Linked DNA regions of Homo sapiens. The protein of the gene in region 3 interacts with the protein of the main gene of each other region in a pairwise test. Each region holds a gene or a part of one and is shown on either strand. Other genes may lie near its edges.

Region 1 (7,459 bases), on a different chromosome or scaffold from region 3:
TATTAAATACCCATTACCCTCTACCACAAAGAAGGGACCTAATCTGAACCTTTAACCATCTGGCCTCTGGGCCCAGGCCCTCAGATTGACTTGATATGAATGGCAAAGATCCCATCACCAACTGGGCCTAGGCTGGCCTTAGGGCCCAGATCTGCATGGGAAAAGTGTGGAGCCAGGGAGCGGAAGGTGGGGAGCCTGCCCAGGAGGGTCCTTGCAGCAGCGACCTCCTGCTCTGGTCTCTCCTGGCCACCCCACCAGCCCAAGGGAGGCCCAGTCCTGTCAGCTCCTACCTGGCACCAGCTCTGAATGCCTTACTGGTCTCCAGCCTTCAGTGGAGCTCTCTCCAACCTAATCTCAAGGTAGCAGCCTCAACCCTGACCCTGTCACTGCTCTGTTCGGCTCCCTAGACCTGGCCTGGTGCAGTGCGGCTCACGCCTGTAATCCCAGCACTTTGAGAGGTGGAGGCAGGTGGATCACCTGAGCTTAGGAGTTTGAGACTAGCCTGGCTAACATGGTGAAACGCCATCTCCACTAAAAATACAAAAATTAACCAGGTGTGGTGGCGCTCGCCTATAATCCCAGCTACTTGGGAGGCTGAGGCAGGAGAATCACTTGAATCCAGGAGGCAGAATATGCAGTGAGCCGAGACCGCGCCATTGCACTCCAACCTGGGTGACAGAGCAAGACTTGTCTCAAAAACAAGTGGGGGGTTGTGCCACATCCACTAACAGGCCCTCCCCCTGTGGCCCTGCCACCCCAATCTTGGTTCCCGCGCTAACCACACTCAAGTATGCTTTCCATGGATGGTGCCTGGTCCTGCCATGCCTCCAAAGTCTTCAAATGTGCAGAGCTCACCAGCCAACCTCAGACCGGCCCATGCCTACGCCTATTGGTCCTTTTTTAAAAATTAAATTTTATTATTATTTTTTTCACAGACAGGGTCTCACCCGTTTGCCCAGGCTGGAGTGCAGTGGCCTGATCATGCTCACTACAGCCTCAAACTCCTGGGCTCAGGTAATCATCCCACCTCAGCCTCCAGGGTAACTCGACAGGTATGTACCACTGCACTTGGCTCATTTTTATAGAATTGCTGTAGAGATAGGGTCTTGCTTTGTTGCCCAGGCTTGTCTCGGAACTCCTGGCTTCAACTCCCGCCTGGGCCTCCCAAAGTACTGAGAGGATGGGTATGAGGCTGGCCTATTCGGGCATCACCTTCTTGGACCCTCAGAGTCTGCTTGGGGGCCTCCTGGGGGTCCTGCAGCCCCTGTCTCTGCTCCCCTCTGGCTCCAGCTGACCACTGCACTCCAGGCTGGGCTACAGGGCAAGACTCCATATCAGAAAAAAAAAAAATTAGAATGGAGATACTAGTAACACCTATTGCACAGGACTGTTGTGGGGATGAAATGATCCGGCACAGAGTAAACCGCTAAGAGAGGGGCTGCTGCTCTTATCAGTTTCTGGTTGTCAGCCCAAGGCCTGGCATAGAGCAGACATATGTTTGTTGACTGAAGACATGAAGGCAACCTATTCCCAGAGGACCCACTGTGAGGTCACTGCAGCTGCAGATACAGGAAACTGGACTGGTTTTTATTATCTTTTTTTTTCCAGCAAACTTGCAAATGAGTAGTTGAAACCCTTCTTTGGTGAAGGAAGACACACCTAGCCATGTGTCCCCACCCAGGCTACAGCCCGCACTTAGCCTCCTACACACTCACCAGTGGAAACACCAGGCGCCAGTCAGAAGCCCTATTTTACCCTAAGAGGTTAGGATGCAAATCTAGTATGTGCAGAAAAGAGTACCACACCCACGGCCTTGAGGGCACCTGCAGGGCTCCGAGTGGGAGGGAGGGCAGGTTCTGGACAGAGCAGCCTACATTTGGTGAACAGCTCTGCACTCGACAGCTCGCCTATGGCTCATCTGGAAGATGGGGAAACGCCATCTACCTCCCAAGCCCCTCCCAGGTTGCCCAGAAGCACAAGCAAGTAGAGATGTGTTCTGCTCAGCCCTCAGCAGGTGTTCGAGGGCCGAGGCTGCAGGAGTGTCAGAGCGGGGTTGGGGGCAGAGGTGGATGGGGCTGGACCTGAGGATGAGGTCGAACTCCTGGTAGGGACCCTCAGACTCTCATGACCTCGCCCAGTCCTGTCAAAGCCAAGCAGGCGGGATCTGACACTTCCTGTTTCACAGGCAGGCAAACCGAGAGGGTCAGGGGCCACGCTGGGGTCACAGGGAGGGCCAGCTGAGTGGGCCCAGCTAGAAAACCCTGGTCCAGTCTTCCACGTGCCACCCTCCCAGTCACAGCCTGGCCCTGGACCATGAGGGTGGGGTGGCACAAAGCCCTTGGAGCGCACACAACTCCAGTGTAACCCAGCAGGAAACGCCCTGAGCCTGCAGCCAGGCTGGACCTCAGTTCCACCCCCTGCTCGGCCCCTGCTGTGTGAGGCAGAACAACCAGCTCACCTCTGAGCCTTGCAGAAACAGCCGGGCCTCCAGGGCTGCTGAGAGGATGAAAACATACACTACTGCCCATTTTCCACCACCTAGCAGGGGCTCCATAAAAGCTGGTTAACACAATCAACAGCCTTAGAAGAGAGGAGACCAGAGGCCACTCACAGCTCAGGACGCCACGGTGGACTGAACATGTTGCTGCCTTTCTGGAGGGTAGTGTGACCATCAGCATCCACCAGTCACACACGCACATGACCTTTGATTTCTAGGGATGCATCCCACACACACCCCTGCATGGACCTGGCAGCCTTGAAAAATTGAAGCCATAGATCACAGGCACCGCTGTGCTGTCATCACAGCCCTTCGGGAGGCCGAGGCGGGCACGTCGCACGAGCCCAGTTCAAGACCAGCCTGGGCAATACAACGAGACCCCCTCTCTAAAAATAAATTAACAATAAAAAATTTTAAAAATATATGAAATGGGCCAGCCGCGGTGGCTTACACCTGTAATCCCAGCACTTTGGGAGGCCAAGGTGGGCAGATCATGAGGTCAGGAGTTCAAGACCAGCCTGACTAACATGGTAATAAAACTCCGTCTCTACCCCGTTTCAAAAAAAATTAGCCAGGTGTGGTGGTGCGCGCCTGTAATCCAGCTACTCGGGTGGCTGAGGCAGGAGAATCGCTTGAACCTGGGAGGAGGAGTTTGCAGTGAGCCGAGATCACACCATTACACTCCAACCTGGGCGACAAGAGCGAAAAACTCCATCTCAAAAAAAAAAAATATGGGCCGGGCGCGGTGGCTCACGCCTGTAATCCCAGCACTTTGGGAGGTTGAGGCGTGCAGATCACAAGGTCAGGAGATGGAGAGCATCCTGGCTAACACAGTGAAACCCTGTCTCTACTAAAAATACAAAAAAAATTAGCTGGGCGTGGTGGCGGGCGCCTGTAGTCCCAGCTACTCGGGAGGCTGAGGCAGGAGAATGGCTTGAACCCTGGAGGCAGAGCTTTCAGTAAGCCGAGATCATGCCACCACACTCCGGTCTGGGCGACAGAGTGAGACTGTCTCAAAAAAAAAAAAGAAAAAGAAAAAAAAAAATCCGTAGTATGTACCTTGTTTCCTCAAGTTTCAAGAAAAAAAAAAGACAGCTCACTTTTTTCTCTTTAAACACTGATGTGTAGCTAGTAACTTGGATAAAAAGGTGCCACCCTACAAAATGTGCTCAGCGTGTTCTGATTCCAGGATGGGCTTGGCTGCCTGGGCTGGGCCTGGGAGACCTCCGTCCGTCACAGTGGAAACTGAAGCCAAGTGCCAGTGCCGCATCCGGCTTCAAGATCTAGAATCAGAGCCTTTGAAATGGAAAAGGGGCATCTGAAACGGCACCCCCACCTGCGGCTTTCAGAGCTAAGGCTCCAGAATGAAGGGGTCACCTGGCTAGTGACAAGATGGGAGTCACCCTGAGCTGCAGCTCCCCCCAAGATTCCCCTGTGAGAGGCCCAATATGGAGTATTACTATTTTGAGACAGGGTCTCTCTGTCACCCAGGCTGGAGTGCAGTGGCATGAACATGGCTCACTGTAGTCTCCACCTCCCTGGGCTCAGGTGATCTTTCCACCTCAACTTCCCAAGTACCTGGGACTACAGGTGCACGCCACCACACCTGGCTAATTTTGTATTTTTAGTAAAGACGGGGTTTCACCAGGCCGGGCACGGTGGCTTACGCCTGTAATCCCAGCACTTTGGGAGGCCGAGGCGGGCGGATCACGAGGTCAGGAGATCGAAACCATTCTGGCTAACACGGTGAAACTCTGTCTCTACTAAAAATACAAAAATTAGCCGGGCGTGGGGGTGGGCGCCTGTAATCCCAGCTACTCGGGAGGCTGAGGCAGGAGAATCACTTGAACCTGGGAGGCAGAGGTTGTAGTGAGCCGAGATTATGCCATTACACTCCAGCCTGGGTGACAAGAACAAAACTGTCTCAAAAAAAAAAAAATGCATTTAATACATGTAACCTACCCAACGTCACAGCTTAGCCTTTTGGAGGCTCCCAGCACTTTAAGAGCACAAGGCGAAAGGATCACTTGAGCCCAGGAGGTTGAGGCTGCAGTGAGCTGTGACTGCGCCACTGCACTCCAGCCTGGGCGACAGAGTGAGACCCTGTATCAATAAGTTAGGGGAGGAGATTTTATTCTATGTCCTTTCCTGTTCGAACACCTATAAAAATAATCCTAACCGTAGAGGAAGTCTAACAGACTAATAATTCTCTTGACTGATTTTGAAATGACCCCAAAAAGGGGAAGCCTGTGCCTTTTTATCACCATGAAGGAAGCAGAGAATGCCAAGCCACCACCTGGGCCTACAGTTGTTAAGTTTCAAAAGTTCATATTTAAAACAAGTTCTGGGCCGGGGCGCGGTGGCTCCCTCCTGTAATCCCAGCACTTTGGGAGGTCAAGGCAGATGGATCAACTAAGGTCAGGAGTTCAAGACCCCCCGGTCAACATGGTGAAACAGTGTCTCTACTAAAAATACCAAAGTTAGCCGGGCGTGGTGGCGGGCACCTGTAGTCCAAGCTACTCGGGAGACTAAGGCAGGAGAATCACTTAAACCTGAGAGGCAGAGGTTGCAGTGAGCCAAGATCGTGCCACCGCACTCTAACCTGGGCAACAGAGCAAGACTCAATCAAAAATAAAAAATAGGCCAGACGCGGTGGCTCACACCTATAATCCTAGCACTTTGGGAGGTTGAGGCAGGTGGATCAACTGAGGTCAGGAGTTCACAACCATCCTGGCCAACATGGCGAAACCTCATCTCTACTAAAAATACAAAAACTAGCCAGGCGTGGTGGCGCACGCCTGTAATCCCAGCTACTAGGGAGGCTGAGGAAGGAGAATCACTTGAACCCAGGAGGTGGAGGTTGCAGTGAGCCGAGATCGCGCCACTGCACTCCAGCCCCCGCGACAGGAGTAAGGCTCCATCTCAAAAAAAAAATAAAACAAGTTCTGAAATGCTGAGGCTGAAGAATATGAAGACTGCTCACCCTGGCCCCGACCCTGAGGCTTGAGAGGCAGGTACGGCCCCTGGGCTCCACTTCAGTGTTTGGGTCTCCCCTATGAACTTGCACCCAGCCCTTTCACACCCCAGCTCCTCCTTTACATCCTCCCTCTGTTACCAACATCCCCCAGGCAGGCACGGGGGACTCACTGCTTCCTTGGGGCTCAGGCACAAGTCACTTCCTCCCCACCCTCCCCAGGACAGAATTAAATGCTCCTCATCTGTGTTGTCCCAGCACCTTGGGTAAACAGACCTGGATTGGGCACTCAGCCCATCAAGGTCTCGTTAAATGTTTACCTGTGTGTCTGCCCCAGCCAGTCGGGAACCTGCATGGCCCCAGAACAGAGCAGGGACCCAGTGAAAGCCGGTGAGAGGATGCAGACAGCCTGAGAGTTCACTGCAAAATCCTGAGAATGAGGGAAGGGGTTACTCTGGTGCTGGGCTCACGATGGCAGGCTGTTCCTGGCTGGGAGACCCTGGACTGGACAGTATCACCTTCTGTTAAAGGGCAGGAGGGAAAGCCCCATGGGCAGATGTAGCCCTGAGAAGGAGGTGAAATGCTGCATGCATGGTATGCAGTAAGTGCCCACTAAGAGGCAGCTCTCATTCTGTGAGCCTGTTGCTCTGCGAGGCGCACACCCGTGCTGACCACCTCACGGTCCGAGCTCGGATTTATCTTCATGATGCGCCATTGTCTGCACAGGGAATTTCAGCTCCTCCTGGAATCAGGTAGCTCTCTTTGCCCTCACATGAAAGGGAGCCTCTAATCTCGAAGATACTGTCACACACAATAAATGTCATCTCTTGGCCAGGCACGGTGGCTCGCACCTGTAATCCCAGCACTTTGGGAGGCTGAGGCGGGCGGATCACAAGGTCAGGAGTTCAAGACCAACCTGGCCAACGTGGTGAAACCCCATCTCTATTAAAAATACAAAAATTAGCCTGGTGTGGTGGCACGCGCCTGTAATCTCAGCTACTCGGGAGGCTGAGGCAGGAGAATCACCTGAACCCGGGAGGCAGAGGTTGCAGTGAGCTGAGATCACACCACTGCACTCCAGCCTGGGCAACAGAGCAAGACTCCATCTCGGGGAGGGGGCGGTCAAGAATACTTGATCTTAAATATCCAAAATGACAGGGACCCTCACTCAAATAAACAAGTGAGCTTTTCTCTCTTTGCTGCATGGCTTTTCAGTTTGGCTAACTGGGTGCCAAGTTCTGTCCCACCCCCAGAAAAACAGGTTTACCATGCAGTGCCTGGCGAGGCCCAGTGGTGTTTTGTATTGTCACATCCTAATATTGACACTAGGAAAATCAGCTGCCCTGTGTGCCCGCCCCTCTCCTGCCTGCCTCGGGGCCAACAAGGAACTTAGGGGCCACGGACTGATTTGCTCACATTCTATGTTTCTCCCAGGGCCCAGCCCCAACCAACCAGTGGCAGGACAAAGGGAGGCTAGGAAGTGGCCACATGTGTCCAGTTCAGACACACTGCTGGCTTCCTGGTGACCACCAACAGTAAGACTGGTGCGGAGACTTCCTCCATACGGCTCAAACTGTTCTGAGCACAGACGGTAGTCAAAATCTCATGGGATCCGCTAAGTCTGCAGCAGGGGAAGCAAAAAGCCATTAATTGTCTACACATTTAATAGGTTCACTAAAAACAGGATGCTTTCCAGGGAGAGGGGAAAATACCACCAGCAGTGGTGTCAGCTTCAAGACTCACTGGCCAATCAAGCCCTTCCTCAATTACATCCTTCCGTTGAGACGGGATCAGAAATGGGGGAAAAAAAAAGTACACGGTTATGAGTAGTCTCTGGTTTATCTGCAGCTCTGTGACACAAGACGTAATTTTTTTTTTTTTGAGATGGAGTCTCACGTTAGCCCAGGCTGAGTGCAGTGGCACCATCTCTGCTCACTGCAATCTCCGCCTCCTGGGTTCAAGCAATTCTCCCGCCTTAGCCTCCCAAA
Region 2 (8,279 bases), on a different chromosome or scaffold from region 3:
GCCTCCCCTCCACCCTGAGTGTCCCAAGTCTGCCCGCTGTGCATTCCATGGGGCCAGCAGCTCGGTGGAGCCTCTGCTCTCGGGGGCTACAGCTGCTCCTAGATGCCTCTGCCACCGAGGGTGGACCCTGCAGTGCTGGCTCCTAGCCTCCCTGCCGATTGCTTCCTGAAGACCTGGGGCCCTGGGCTGCAGTGGTTGGGGAGAGGGGGGTGGGAGTGAGAAGCTGGCACTGTCCGTCTTTCTGGCCTCATCCTCTCCATGGTCTCAGCCCCTGGCGGCCTGGACTGCACCGTTCCGGAGATGCTGCCTCCCCACCAAGTCCCTTTAGCCCAACTGTGGTGGCGGCCGCTGCTTCTCACACGCGGGTCCTCTCACTGCCTCTCCCCGGTCCTCCCTTCCTCCCAGCACCTTCACCAGCTCCCCACTGAGTGCCCTCCAATGTTGGCGACCCTGACCCTTGTCCAGCCAGGGGTGAAGGGCGGCAAGGGATGGGCTGGAGGGTACTAGGAGCAGGTGGCGGTGCCCTTCCTGTCGGTCCACACCCGGCAAGTGGCGGGAAAGGTGTGGAATGAGTCAGCCGTGGAGGGGAGCCCTGGGCCTGGAAGACCCCTGTCTTTGGCTTGAGAATGACTTTGAAGGGCTCAGGGGGTAGGGAGCTGGGGGGAGACCGGGAGGAGAGCGGCAGGTCTGGCTCTACCCCGAGGCTTCAGGCTGCGGACCATGCGTGGCCCCAGCTCTGTCTGGGCAGCAGGTGTCAGCGACTTTGGGTTGCTGTGGGAATTTGCTCCGTTTATCAGAAGAAAACGCACCCTGGCAACACAGGCCCCTCTCAGGTCACCAGGCACATCTGGTCACATCTGAGTCTCAGATAAACAACCAATGATGTCCTGGTGAAAGCTTGTCCCGTGGGACACTCGGGACACACTTATATTAAAACACGATTAACGATCTCAAACTCAGATGTTACTGGGTATCCTGCGTTTTTGTTGGCAGCTCTGCCACTCTGCCCGTCTGCCTGAGTCCTCTCCTGCCATCCTCCTGACCAGAGGCGTGGGCTTGAGTTGAATGCCACGCAGTGGCTAAAAATCAGAGAGAGGGCAGGCGGCAGGGCGCGGCCCCAGGGAAAGTGGCCAGGTGGGCGGTGACTGGCCGGGCAGCTCCGTGTGTGGCACAGGGAGACCTGGCACAGGGAGACCAGGTACAGGGAGACGAGGCGCACGGAGCCTCAAAACTTCTAGAGTGGGCCGGGCGCGGTGGCGCATGCCTGCAATCCCAGCACTTTGGGAGGCTGAGGCAGGTGGATCACCTGAGGTCGGGAGTTTGAGACCAGTCTGAACAACGTGGTGAAACCCCGTCTCTACTAAAAATACAAAAAAATTAGCCGGGCGTGGTGGTGCACGCCTGTAATCCCAGTTACTTGGGAGGCTGAGGCAGGAGAATCGCTTGAACCAGGGAGGTGGAGGTTGTGGTGAGCCAAGATCTGGCCACTACATTCCAGCCTGGGCAACAAGAGCGAAACTCCGTCTCAAACCAAACAAAACAAAAAACAAACTTCTAGAGCGGGAAAAGATGGAGGCGGCAATCAGATTTCTCTCAAACCACGAACACAGGGGTCGGTATCTGAGGCGCCGGCACCAGACACGGCAGGGTCTGAGTGCTCCCTGACAAGCGATGATGCGCAGGCTTGGAGCCATGCCAGTGACACGCCTAGGAAAGTTCACGCACCGCCCAGCACGCCTGCGCATGCCTGTTCCCGCTCCCTGGTGCCCCGGGCGCCTGCCTGTCCCGGCTCCCATGGGTGCTGGGTGTGTGGAAGCTCCGGCCCCCTCGGGCTGGGTTCATTGGGGTCCTCCTGTGTGGTCAGTGGACTCTGTACCCCCACAGCACCTGAGGGGTGGCTGACACTGCTTTCCCAGCTGCTGCAGGGGCTCAGGGAACACAGGTGACCCCACGTCTCTACCGAGAATGAGCACACCAACACCTCTCAGAAGACAGCTGCAGCCTGCAGAGGCCATGGACCCCACCCAGGCCCACGGTGTGGACGGCTCTGCCCTGGTCTCTGCTGAGCCAGGCCCAGAGGGGACCCCAGGTGAGCAGCAAAGCCCCCCAGGCCTGGGGCTAGACCGGGCTAACCCTTCCTGCTCAGCACCTGTTCACCTGTCCCCTCTGCTGGTGGCCTCCTGTCCTCCCGCTCTGGGCTCAGCAGCAGCCCCGTGGAGAGGCCCTGCCACCACCCCCGCCCTGCTGGAGACAGGCCTCCTACGCGGGCTCCTGCAGCCGGTCGCCCTGGGCCTCCTAGAAGCCGGGGATCCTCTGCTGACCACCGGCAGAAAACGTGCTTCTCAAGCTGCAGGTGATTCACCAGTAGTGGGCAAGGAACTGAATGTGGTGATTACTGCGGAGTCAGCAAAACCCGCGTGAGAACGGGCAGCTGAGGGCCTGCCGGGTGAGGGAAGCCTCACGGTTCCTGTTTCATGAGTTTGCTGTGAGTGCACACGAGGCTGTGGCTGTGGAGTGTGCAACAGTCCACGCGTGCCTGCGTGTGCTCATGTGCGTGTGTCCACCAGCTTGTGTGCACGCATATGAGCGAGTGCGTTTTGCTCCCAGCTTGGTCGCAGCGACGGCGCAGGGAACCCCGGGTGAGGCCGAGGACCGGGAAGGGAGGAGGGGGCTCCGACCCATCGGACTTAGGGGAGCCCCGGGTCCGAGACGCCGCCTCTGTCCCTTCAAGAGTCGAGCCTGGCGCACAGGGCAGGGACGCGGGTCCCCACACCGGCCGGCAGCTCGTTCCCGCCCATACTCGGGTACGCCCGCTGCGACCCCGCCCGCCTGGCCTGCGACGCACGCTCAGGGCCAGCGGGGGGTGACGGTCCCAGAGGCAGAGGCGCCGCAGCCCCAGAGTCCCCATCCCTGCGCGGACCGGCAACCCCAGTGCACCAAGAGGCCCTAACACCGAGCCCCCAGCACCGAGTCCCCAGCACCGGGCCCTCAGCACCGAGTCCCCAGCACCGAGTCCCCAGCACCGAGTCCCCAGCACCGAGCCCGCCCCTCTGGTTCCCCCGCCCGCCCCTCTCCGCGCCTCACCGGGTCCGCTCCTGGACGCGCTCCTCTGGGATGCAGCTTCTCCGCGCCCCGGAGCCCCAGGAAAATGAAAGACACGAGAGGGAGGGGCCAGGGAGGAGGCGGCGGACCCGCGCGGGACCCACCTCCCAGATGAGGAAGGAGCTGGGTTTACGGGAAGCCTCCAAGTTTCGGGAACCACCCGCGTTCACAACAAGCGTGACGGTGAATTTATTATTTTCACGGGAGGCACCGCACCCGCGGTTCACGCTAAAGGAAGCAGGAAAGCCGCCGGGAGCATTTTTCCAGGAGAGTTCGTGCCTGGGCGGGTCCAGCTCGCGTGCGGCGCGCGTTCCCCGCGGGGCTGTTTGGCTCCGCTCCTGGAGGCCTCGAGTCTGTGCACGGGGCGAGCTGGGCGGGCCGAGTGGGCCGCGGGGAGGGAGGGCGGGGGGCGGCCCCCAGATGCCTGGGAGTGCGCGGGCAGAGTGAGCTGGACCCCCGGAGGGTCAGAGGCCCTTTCATAAAAGCGCGCAGAGCAGAGGAGTGATGTCCCCCAGCTCCCCCGCAGAGGGTCCTGCACCTGCGGCCTGGGCCTTCAGGCGTCCTGCGGCCCCTGCGGAGGTGCTGGCCTGGCCAGCCCGGGAGGAGGGGCCCAGCCTGTTGGGGCAGGAGATTGGGGTGCGGGTAGAAGGCTCCAAGACGCATCCGGGCCGGGAACCCACAGACATCCCAGGTGGGCAGGAGGTGGCTCGAGGAGGCCTGGAGGACCCGGCGCCTGGCGGGGTGGCAGGCGGGCCACGTCCTCCACTAGAACCCGAGGGGGCACGCGGGCAGGTGCGGGCGGGGTCAAGGATGACCAGGTATCTTCGGGACACTAGGAGGAGGCCCCACAGGCTGCAGTCACGTGAGTGGGCAAGTCCCCACCGGGCAGATGATGGGGGACACTGGGGCGTGGGCAATGCCCCCAGTTTCATGGAAGAGAGGAAGAAGCAGAACCAAACTCCGGGAAACCCTCAAATGTGGGGAATGGACGGAGCAGGGCCAGACTGGACGCTGAACCTTGGAGCCTGCAGCTCAGCCATCAGACCCAGGGTCCAGAGGTGGGTGGCACAGAACAAAGTCCCCCGGGATGTTCCAAAAGAGAAACTGTCGCCAAATTGGCAGGTGAAACACAGCCTGTCATCCTCCCAGCAAGACGGCACCATGGCCGGGGCACAGAGGTCAGATTCCCCAGCCCCCGCCCTCGGGGAAACCCCAGCCACCCTGGCTGCCAGTGAGATGCTGGAGAGGGGGCTGAAATCCCACCTGCCCACGTCCTCTGCACAGAGGGGCTTGTCCCCGAGGCCACATCCCCCAGCAGCCACAGCTTCCTTCTCCTTTTTTCCTGCCTACTAGATCTCTCAACTCAGAGGGGGCTGCAGTTCCTGGGGGCAGGGGGGTCCGGCTGCTTAGGCAGGAGCACCTGCACCGTGAGGCTCTGGAGGGCAGCTGAAGGCTGGCAGGCTTTTGTCCCGTGAGGGGACACCACTGGGGGTTGGAGGAAAACGCATATCCTGATAAAGCATTTCATGTTGTGAAAGTGAAACTAGTTTGTTTATTTTGGAAGTAATACAGGCACAGAAACAAAATAGAATGAAACCAACTGTTGCCTTTTCCTCCCCACCCTGGCTTCAATTCCCAGGTTGAGTTATGGACACTGCCTTACCTATCCTTCTAGAAGTTTTCCTGGTCCATACAAACAGCACAGCCATCCACTCACGTTTATTTCTTTCTTTTTTTTGAGACGGAGTCTCTGTTGCCCAGGCTGGAGTGCAGTGCTGCAGTCTCGATCACTGCAACCTCTGCCTCCCAGGTTCAACTGATTCTCCCACCTCAGCCTTCTGAGTAGTTGGGATTGCAGGCATGTATCACCACGCCCAGCTAATTTTTGTAGTTTTAGTAGAAATAGGATTTCATCATGTTGGCCAAGCTGGTCTCGAACTCCTGACCTCAGGTGGTCCGCCTGCCTTGGCCTCCCAAAGTGCTGGGGTTACAGGTGTGAGCCACCACATCTGGGCAGTATCTTTCCATTTCTTTTTTTTGTTTTGAGACGGAGTCTCGCTCTGTCGCCCAGGCTGGAGTGCAGTGGCGCAATCTCGGCTCACTGCAAGCTCTGCCTCCTGGGTTCACACCATTCTCCTGCCTCAGCCTCCTGAGTAGCTGGGACTACAGGCGCCCGCCACCACGCCCAGCTAATTTTTCTGTATTTTTAGTAGAGACGGGGTTTCACCGTGTTAGCCAGGATGGTCTGGATCTCCTGACCTTGTGATCCGCCCATCTTGGCCTCCCAAAGTGCTGGATTACAGGCGTGAGCCACTGCACCCGGCCGTATCTTTCCATTTCTATACAATGCTGGGATCAGGCATCTTAGAGCGGATGTGTGGATTCATTCACCCTCAGCCTGTCCTTGAATCACAGCCTCTGCTGTGCCAGGTGACATGTGGAGTTTCATTTCCTTTCTGTTCGAGGAATTTGTAGATTTCAGTTATGATTTTCTGTTTAACTCTCCAAATTATTCGGCAGCATATTCTTAAAATCCCCAAGGTCCTGGAGCATTTGCTTTTCTTTTTTTTGGAGACAGAGTCTTGCTCTGTCGCCCAGGCTGGAGTGCAGTGGTGCGATTTCGGCTCACTGCAACCTCCGCCTCCCTAGTTCAAGCGATTCTCCTACCTCAGCCTCCTGAGTAGCTGGAACTACAGGCACGTGCCGCCACGCCCAGCTTTTATTTATTTATTTATTTTATTTTTGGTAGAGACGGGTTTCACTATGTTAGCCAGGCTTTTTTTTTCTTGAACTCCTGAGCTCAGGCAATCCACCCGCCTCGGCCTCCCAAAGTGCTGGGATTACAGGCGTGAGCCACTGTGCTGGCGGCATTTGCTTTTCTTTGTAACTTGATTCTCTGGGTTCCCTTGCCTTTCATCCTTGCCCACCCACGTGACTGCAGCCTGTGGGGCTTCCTCCTAATGTCCCGAAGATAACTCGTCATCCTTGACCCCGCCGCCACCTCGGGTTCTAGTGGAGGATGTGGCCCGCCTGCCACCCCCACAGGCACCGGGTCCTCCAGGCCTCCTTGACCCACTTCCAACCCACCTGGGATGTCTGCGCGTTACCAGCCCAGATGCCTCTTGGAGCCTTCCACCTGCACCCCATCTCCTGTCCCAACAGGCTGGGCCCCTCCTCCCGGGCTGGCCAAGCCAGTACCTCCGCAGGGGCCGCAGGTGCAGCACCCTCTGTGGGGGAGCTAGGGGGATCGCTCCTCTGCTCTGCGCACTTTTATGAAAGGGCCTCTGACCCTCCCACTGTCCTGCTCACTCTGCCCGCGCACCCCCGGCCACCTGGGGGCCGCCCCCCAAAGCCCTCGGCCCGTGGACAGACTCGCAGCCTCCTGGGAGCCGAGCCAACCGGCCCCACAGATTTGTGCATGACTCAGTTGTACCCACTGCTCACTGGCTGGAAGGGTCTCACGGGTCCTTCCAACATGTAATATTCTCTGACTGTTGGGAGCAAGGGTCTCTGCAGGTGTCCCTCCTGTCAAGGTGTCAGTGGGGTAGGTTAGGTCTTTTATATACTTGTCAATTTTTTTTTTTTAAGACGGAGTCTCGCTCTGTCGCCCAGGCTGGAGTGCAGTGGCACGATCTCAGCTCACTGCAAGCTCCGCCTCTCGGGTTCACGCCATTCTCCTGCCTCAGCCTCCCCAGCAGCTGGGACTACAGGCGCCCGCCACCACGCCCAGCTAATTTTTTGTATTTTTATATACTTGTCAATTTGTATGGGCTTGAGCTATCAGTAATTAAGAGAGATAGGTTGGAATGGCCTCCTATGGTGGGGGCTTAGCAGCCTCTTCTTGTGGTTCTAGGAATTTTTAATCATATATTTGGAGGCTTTTTTTTTTTAAGAGATGGGGTCTCCTGTAGTTGACCAGGCTGGCTTGCAGTGGCTGTTCACTGGCAGGATCGTAGCTCAATGTACCCTGACCTTCTGGGCTCAAGCGATCCTCCAGCCTCAGCTTTCTGAGTAGCTGGCACCACAGGCAGGCACCACAGATAAAAAGTCTAAAATGTTTGCTTCAGTCTTTGTCGTTTTGTTGCTCTTGTTCTTGTCTTGTGCTAACCTAATTCTAATTTATCTATTTTATAATATTCGGAAGTTTTAAAATATGAGGCTAATTTTAAATTCTTACCCAGCATGTGTTTCTGCTTTTGGTGGAATCCACAACCCAGCTTGTTATTTTCCACCTGAAAAGGCTGTGCTCCTCGAACATCCAGTTATGTTGCCCTGAGCCCCTTCACTTGCCAATCTTCTTGGTATTTCTTTTGGGATTTCACTGTCTTTATAGCTTCACTTTATTTTAATTCTATTTATTTATTTATTTGGGGGGGATGGAGTCTCACTATGTTGCCCAGGCTGGAGTGCAATGGCACGATCTCACCTCACGCAACCTCCACCACCCGGGTTCAAGTAATTCTCCTGCCTCAATCTCCCTAGTAGCTGAGATTAGAGGCGTGCACCTGGCTAATTTTTGTATTTTTAGTAGAGACGGGGTTTTGCCGTGTTGGCCAGGCTGGTCTCTAACTCCTGACCTCATAATCTACCCACCTTGGCCTCCCAAAGTGCTGGGATTACAGGCGTGAGCCACCGTGCCCAGCTGTTATAGCTTAATTTTAGAAAGAATGGCATTTTTAGGGCTGGGTGCGATGGCTCATGCCTGTAATCCTAGCACTCTGGGAGGCTGAAGTGAGACAATCTCTTGAGGCCAGGAATTTGAGACCAGCTTGGACAACACAGTGAGACCCATCTTCACAAAAATAAAATAATGAGCCGGGCGTGGTGGCCAGTGCCTGTAGCCCCAGCTACTTGGGAGGCTGAGGTAGGAGGATCTCTTGAGCCTGGGAGGTCGAGGCTGCATTGAACCGAGATCAGGCCACTGCACTGTAGCCTGAGCAACAGAGCGAGACCCTGCCTCAAAGAGAGAGAGAGAGAGAGAGAAAGAGAGAAAGAGAAAATACTTTTAATAGTAATCCTTCCTAGCCAATGAGATAGGAATGCTGGGTGGTCATAGGAGAAATGAGAAATATCAAACAGTAATCTTGCAGAAAAGCAAGAAAGCAGCTGTTAGAATGAGCCACAGAAAGCAACTGTTAGAATGAGCCACGGAAAGCAGCTGTTAGAATGAGCCATGG
Region 3 (7,459 bases):
TAATTCTGTTTGAAGAATGGTTCTTATTAAACACTCCCTTTGGTAAATGCCAGTACATCCACCTGTGCCCTTGCAAATGCTTGGTCCTACAGGTTCTTCCATAAATAACCTGACACCGAGACACATGACTCCAAAGATGACCTTACATTCTTCTTGAATGGGGGAAATAGACATCTTCATGCTCAACAGTCTTTTAGTCACAATCTTCAGGTCTTCATACGACTCACTAGTTGCTCTCCTGACCATTTATCCTAGAGAAATGAAGATTTACAGTCACATACAAACAAATGTTTGTAGAAGCTTTAACAATGGCCAAAAACTGGAGACACCAGATGTCCTTCAGTAGATGAACTGTTATATTGTGGTACACCCATGCCACGGAATACTACTATGGATAAAAAAGGGACAAACTATGGATACACACAGCTACCCTGGATGAATCTCCAGAGAATTATACTGAGTGAAAAGACCAATCCCAAAAGGTTCCTGTATGTGCTGTATGGCTCCATTTATACAACATTCTTGAAATGACAGAATTAAAGAAGTGGAAGACTAGGTAGTGTTTTCTAGGTGTTAAGGAGAGACTGGCATGGGAGGGAAGCAGGAATAGCTAAAAAGGGCAACATATGAGAGATTTTTCATGGTGATGGAAATGTTCTGTATCTTGACTATATCAATGTCAGTATCCTGGTTGTGATGTTGTACTATAGTTTGGCAAGATGTTACCATTGGGGGAAACTGGATAAAGGGTGCACAGGATCACTCTGTGTTATTTCTTACAACTGCATATGAATTTATAATTATCTCAAAAAGTTTAATTTAAAAAAGTCTTTAGTCCTCTTCACCCATTGGACAATCGTTAAATATGTGCTCTGATTTGTATTCACTTTATGACTTCTTAGGGAAGCTATTAACAGAGTCTAGTGAGTAAGGTCTAACTGAGGTCTTGGAAGTTTTCTTGGCAGGTTTCTAGTAATTTAGTCTAATGAATTTGTATAATATTATTATGAAATCATACAAATCTGTAATTTGTTCAAGTGTATTTTCTTATGGGCCATTGTAATATCCAAAGAAAATGGCAGGCTGGTTGCGGTGGCTCACGCCTGTAATCCCAGCACTTTGGGAGGCCAAGGTGGGTGGATCACCTGAGGTCAGGAGTTCAAGACCTGCCTAGCCAACATGGTGAAACCTCATCTCCACTAAAAATACAAAAATTACCCAGGCATGGTGGCACATGGCTGTAGTCCCAGCTACTGGGGAGGCTGAGGCAGGATAATTGCTTGAACGCGGAGGCCTCTGCAGGTGAGTCGAGATTGCACCACTGCACTCCGGCACCAGCGACAGAGTGAGACTCTGTCTCAAAAATAAAAAAAGAAAAAATTGCAGAAGCATTGTCCTTCTTGTGGATTTAAGAGAACATTAGGATTATTTGGGGGCATGACCATATGAACTATAATTCCATCTCTAGATGAAAAACAAAATTTTTTCTTTTTCCCTAATGTGAGCTCTACCACATCCAGAATAACCCACTTGCACCATTTTAATTAACATTGAAAATTAAAGCCAAATCATACATTAGAGACAGGCTCTAGTCGTTAAAGACTCAGCTCTAGAGGTCAGGACAAGAGAGGAAAAATATTAGGCTTTGGGTGAATACATAATATTTGTTTAAGGAAATCAAGGTAAGTGGCTCCGTGATATGAAGTTCGTCTAAATTGATACTGTGGTATCACAAAAGAAGTAGGAAATGAGGAGCGTAGATGTTTTGTGTGTTATCATGTCTTCGTGATATTTACTGACCCTCGTGTGGGACTGGTCCTCAGGTACAGTTTGTCAGCTATTGTCATCAGTTCCAGCCTAGCACTGATAGCCTTTATGATACAACCTGACTTACATATTGTAAATGGAGCTTTGTAAAATACCATTAATTATTTCCCTATATAAATTTGTTCACAGGGATTTGATAACAATGAACAAGGATGATCGGTAAAAAGTTAACCTGTATTTCACCCTGACCAGGAATTTGGGATTTGGACTTGATAGCATGGTATCTGGCACATTGCAGGCACACAGTGAATGTTTGTTTCATGAACTAATATTGCTATTTTTGTGGTCCTTACTGCCTGCCCATGACCCTGCTTCCACGGTCCTTCCAGAGAAGAGCTGAGTGGGCAGACAGGGTGCCCTCGTAGTCTCTCTCAGTGCAGAGAAGTGCAGCCTGGGTGGGGGAGCAGCGTCAGGCTATGTAAAGAAGACTACAGATAGACTTGGGCCAGCTTTTATTTCACACTGAAAAGACAAGGAAGGGAACAGATTTAAAGAGATTTAAGTACCAGCATTCAAGGTAGATTAGAAATACTTTTTCTTAAATGTATCCTGTTTGGTTTAAATATAAGTATTGGCTTTTTAAACTTATTTTTTCCCACTATGAATAGTATTTTATTTATAAAAATGCTTTTGTGGACTAATCTGGGATCTAGCCTCCATTTATAATGTGAAAAATATGCATTCTGAATTCCAAGTAATGACTGAGAGTGAATTTTCGGAGCCCAATTTGTTCTTTAGTGATGGCACATAATTTGATTCTTATTCTTTTATCTTTCTGTCTTGCTTTCTTGTTTGTGGGCCACAGAGCAGCTTCTATTAAGCCCTTCTTTGCTTCCTTTTCACTACTTTGTTACTCGTCAGATATTTTTCTGGCCTCACAAGTTGATGCCTCACCTACAGATTTTCTAGAGAATTTCTTCAGGCTCAGTAACCTGTCTGTATTTAATAGAACAGTGAGTTCTTTTTCTCACCACACTTCTATTATAACTTAATTTTCTATTTACTGTAGATCCTTGCCAGCACATTACAGAATATTTTTGTTGAACCTTCTTGAGAATTCAGAGAAACTGCTGAGTGACCACTGAACGAAAAGATCTAATCTTAAGGCTTACGTGAGTATTTACTACTGTGGACTTCCTCACAAGATGTGAAACCTTCAGTGAACTGCTTTAGGACAGATTCAGTTCTGTGATCAAGATGAAAAATAACTATCATTGGGCTTATTAAATGTGGGATTAAGTTTAGTAGTTGCTCAGGGACACAGAGAAACTGACAAAATACACACTTGTTCTCACCTGAAAAATAGACACAGAGACTTGTATTTCTTGCTGAGCCAACACTCAGAAGTATCCTAGTCTGCAAACCACAAGAATTCTTACTGTGTCTGAATCAAAAACACCAACTAGATTTTTTAAATTATCTATTTTTAAAAATTTAACCAAAACACATTACCTTTTGAAAAGCACTTGATATGTGGCATTTCATTTTGAAAAAGGTTTATGATAGCTTTTCCATTTTTATGATTCAATACTGTGCAAGCTTGTCCAACCTGCAGCCCAGAACAGCTTTGAATGTAGCCCAACACAAATTCATAAACTTTTAAAAAACATTCTGAGATTTTTTTTGCAATTTTTTAAAGCTTATCAGCTATCATTATGTATTTTATGTGTAGCCCAAGACAATTCTTCTTCCATTGTGACCCAGGGAAGCCGAAATGTTGGACACCCTTGCTGTAAGGGAAAATATTTAGATTACCCTCGCAAAAGAATTCTTGACTATTTTATTGAGTAAATTCTTCTCATTGAGTTTTTCTGTTTGTTGGTTTGGTTTGGTTTGGTTTGGTTTGTTTTTTTGAGACAGGCCTCACTTTGATGCCCAGGCTGGAGTGCTGTGGCTCAATCACAGCTCATCGCAACCTCGACCTCCCGGGCTCAAGTGATCCTCTCACCTCAGCGTCCCGAACAGGTGGGACGAAAGGCGCGCGCCACCATGCCTGGCTAATTTTAAAATATTTTATAGAGACAGGGTCTCTCGCTATGTTGCCCAGGCTAGTTTCGAACTCCTGGGCTTCAAGCTATCCTCCCATTTTGGCCTTCCAAAGTACTGGGATTACAGGTGTGAGCCACTGTGTCCAGCCAGATTTTTAAAAAGTCATCATATGTATCATAATCTGAAGTTTATTTTGATTTTAATCTCTGTAGTTTTTAATCATAAACTTTTTTTCGTATTTGAAATTATTCTTAACAGCCCCTTTTCACCCTTCATTTCATATCCAGTGAGTCATTAAGTTGTGCTAATTCTGTCTTCTCTGTTCCTCTCCAGTGCGTCCCCTTCTGCCTGCCACTGCCTTAGGTCAGGTTTTCATTTCTTGCCTAGATAGCTGCAATGACCTAATGATTGATCTCCCTGCCTCCAGTCTTTGTCTCTACAATCCAGTGCCTCCATATTGCCATCCAAGTCATCTTTCTGAAAGACTAATAAGACTGTGCCATTTCTTTGACTTAAAATTCTTCAGTGGGCTGGACTCATTGAAATAGTAGTCCCAGCTATTTAGGAGGCTGATGTGGGAGGATTGCTTGAACCCAGGAGTTTGAGGCTGCAGTGAGCCATGATTGTACCACCGCACTCCAGCCTGGGTGACAGAGCAAGAACCTGTCTCAATTTAAAACAAAAAAAATCCTTCAGTGGCTCCTCACTGAAATTCAGGTATAAAAAAGCCTAACTGTGGAGTTGTTAGGAAGATTAAATTAAATTCATTAAAAGCTCCTAGTTGGTACCTGGCTCAGAACAAGTCTCAGTGTATGTTAATGCCCACTCTTTCCACAGAGAGCCCATGGTAGCAGCAGAGCCCTTGTGTAAGGCAGCCCCAGATTTTGGGACAATGGCTCTGCTGAGAAGCCAAGTTGAAAGGAATAGGGGCAGCAATCTCACCAAACTCAGCAGCCAGGCTTCCCTGAATCCCCTTGAGGTTAGGCACAAGAATAGATGGGTCTAGCGTCCAGTTCCATCAGTGTTTCAGAAAGAGACTTTACCTGATCAGCTGTATAAGCCAAGTCCATATGTGACTAAGCTTTTGTAACCTAAGAATAAAAAAGCCATCTCTAGAAAAGCATTGGTCTCTGCCTTTCTGTTTTCTTGTTTGTTTTCTCGTCAATTTCCTAGCGAAGTTTCTTTTGACAGGCTTTAACTCTTTCTTAAATGAACCTAGGGGAAGAGAGAGAGACCTAGTTGTATGCAGTTTGGTAGAGCAAAATGTCCTGAGAGTTCAGGTGCACCAGGCAGATGCTGAACTCTCACCTGAGTTCAGGTGCGCCAGTGGGGCCAGGAAACATCTGTGAAAGAGATGTGGGCAAACTGGTGAGCTGGATGAGTCCAAGAGATGAAATTCACATCAGACCTAGTTGGGATTGCTGCTTTGTCCTGACTTGGTATTCCCAGACAGCCCTACTTTTTTTTCCCCTCATCTCTCAGTCTTTGGACGGTGGGAATTTGGCACAGTCACATATTGAGATAACCACAGAGCACAGCAGAATAAGATCAATAGTGGAAAAAGCATAATCTGAATTGATTTCATGCTCTGATTTTTAAATTCAGTTTGTTACATTCCTTAGCCTTTCTCTTAAAATTTGTGCTATAGGCCAGGCGCGGTGGCTCACGCCTGTAGTCCCAGCACTTTTTGCAAGGCCAAGGCAGGCGGATCATGAGGTCAGGAGTTCAAGACCAGCCTGGCCAACATGGTGAAACCCCGTCTCTACTAAAAATACAAAAAATTAGCTGAGCATGGTGGCAGACACCTGTAATTCCAGCTACTTGGGAGGCTGAGGCAGGAGAATCGCTTGAACTCGGGAGATGGAGGTTGCAGTGAGCCAAGACCGCGCCACTGCACTCCAGCCTGGGCAATAGAGCGAGACACCATCTCAAAAAAAAAAAATTGTGCTATAAACATAACACTCTACAGGTCTTTGTTGAGTATAAGTTCTTTTCATGCAAGTAGTTTTAGTTACCATGTAGAATATCTCAAATACAAGAAGAAGCAAATATATCAAAGAGAATTAGTTTGTATTAAATAAGAATGTCTACCAGCAGTAGCATTTATATATGGGTAGTTCTTTGATGTTTAAACACCATGTTATCTATGTGTTCTGACAATGTAATACTTAAATCTAAGCTATTATGTCTTGCTTAACTTTAAAAATATCTCTTAATCTTTTTACATGGTGAAAAGCAAAATAGAGCTTTACAGTAATTGAATTGGAATTTTAATCCAGCAGATGTGAAGAAAATAAAATGTTTTAATGGAAAATAAAATACAATTGATAACTTTGTTGTTGTTTCTGTTTGGTCATTTATTTATTAGAGGCAGGAGGCCAAAAAGGATGAGAAATATTGCTTTTCTAAATGACTCCTTTGTCTTGATTTCATTTGTCTTCATGGAATCTCACTCACCTATTTCATTACAGGCGTGTTCCATCCACCACATCAGAACAATGTCGTATGTTTTTGTAAATGATTCTTCTCAGACTAACGTGCCCTTGCTGCAAGCCTGTATTGATGGGGACTTTAATTATTCCAAGCGGCTTTTGGAAAGTGGCTTTGACCCAAATATTCGTGACAGCAGGGGCAGAACAGGCCTTCACCTTGCAGCAGCTCGAGGGAATGTAGACATCTGCCAGTTACTGCATAAATTCGGTGCCGATCTTCTGGCCACAGATTATCAAGGAAACACAGCTCTTCACCTCTGTGGCCATGTGGATACTATCCAATTTTTGGTTTCCAATGGACTCAAAATTGATATTTGGTAAGTTCTCTGTTGTTTTAGAAGTCTAGTCATTTCTTCCCATTAATCTCTCAACTGATAATCTTATCTTGGGTCTGTTGGTTTTGTTTCCTCATTAATCAGTTGAAATAAGTTCAGAAAGCATTGAAGACAGTGTAATCCTGTTAGGCAAGTGAGGGAATGAGGGGCTGACTTCTAGATTTTTGCTAAAGCAGCATATTTTTTTCTATGAAAATAGTAGGTAGTTTCTGCTACTAATTATGTAGTGTTACAACAAGGGAAGAAGAAGAAAAGAACATTTGTTGAAAATCTATGAGCTAGACTGTGTTTACTTGTTAGCTCATTTAGTCCTCAGAATGAAGAGCTCTCACAATAGGTGTTTTCATTTTACAGATTAGATAGTGAAGACAAAAAAGGATTGGACAAAGTTCACACAGTTTATAGAGGATTTGAAAAGGTCACAGCTTATAAGGGACAGAGCTGGAATTTGAACCTAGTTCCGCTGACTCTAACGCTTGTGTGCCTTCTGTCATGTAACGCACCATGTGAGCTTCATAATCTCCCGGGAGTCCAGGATCCTTTTTAGACTGAACAATTTGAGGAAGTCATGGGGCTTTTTGTTTGTTTTAGTGATACTCTGCTTTTTGAGTGGGAACGATGTCAAGTCACCTGTAAAACTGAGCTTGACCTTTAAATTACAGTTACACACTGCCCTAATTTATTGATGCCATAATGCCCCTAAATCTGAATAAGACAGTAAATGCTTTTGTTTCTGCAGGACAAAATGGGGTAGGAATTGACTGCAGGATTTAATGTGATTGGGGTTCTAACCTATTATTAGCGCTAAATAGCTGC

The links. Proteins that work in one complex are often made in the same cells at the same time.
Region 1: the proteins of ANKRD46 (region 3) and BIK interact in binary tests that used the Homo sapiens proteins (3 or more experiments, as listed by UniProt).
Region 2: the proteins of ANKRD46 (region 3) and SECTM1 interact in binary tests that used the Homo sapiens proteins (3 or more experiments, as listed by UniProt).

What each region holds. Positions count from the first base shown.
Region 1 is NC_000022.11:43,113,442-43,120,900, reverse strand, and holds part of BIK (bcl-2-interacting killer), read right to left. Parts: intron 1-7,459.
Region 2 is NC_000017.11:82,330,616-82,338,894, forward strand, and holds the start of SECTM1 (secreted and transmembrane protein 1 precursor), read right to left. Parts: upstream 3,152-8,279; 5' UTR 3,085-3,151; intron 1-3,084. UniProt on the Homo sapiens protein: May be involved in thymocyte signaling.
Region 3 is NC_000008.11:100,528,689-100,536,147, reverse strand, and holds part of ANKRD46 (ankyrin repeat domain-containing protein 46), read left to right. Parts: intron 1-2,836; 5' UTR 2,837-2,939; intron 2,940-3,687; exon of another isoform or gene 3,688-3,792; intron 3,793-6,287; 5' UTR 6,288-6,314; coding exon 6,315-6,625; intron 6,626-7,459.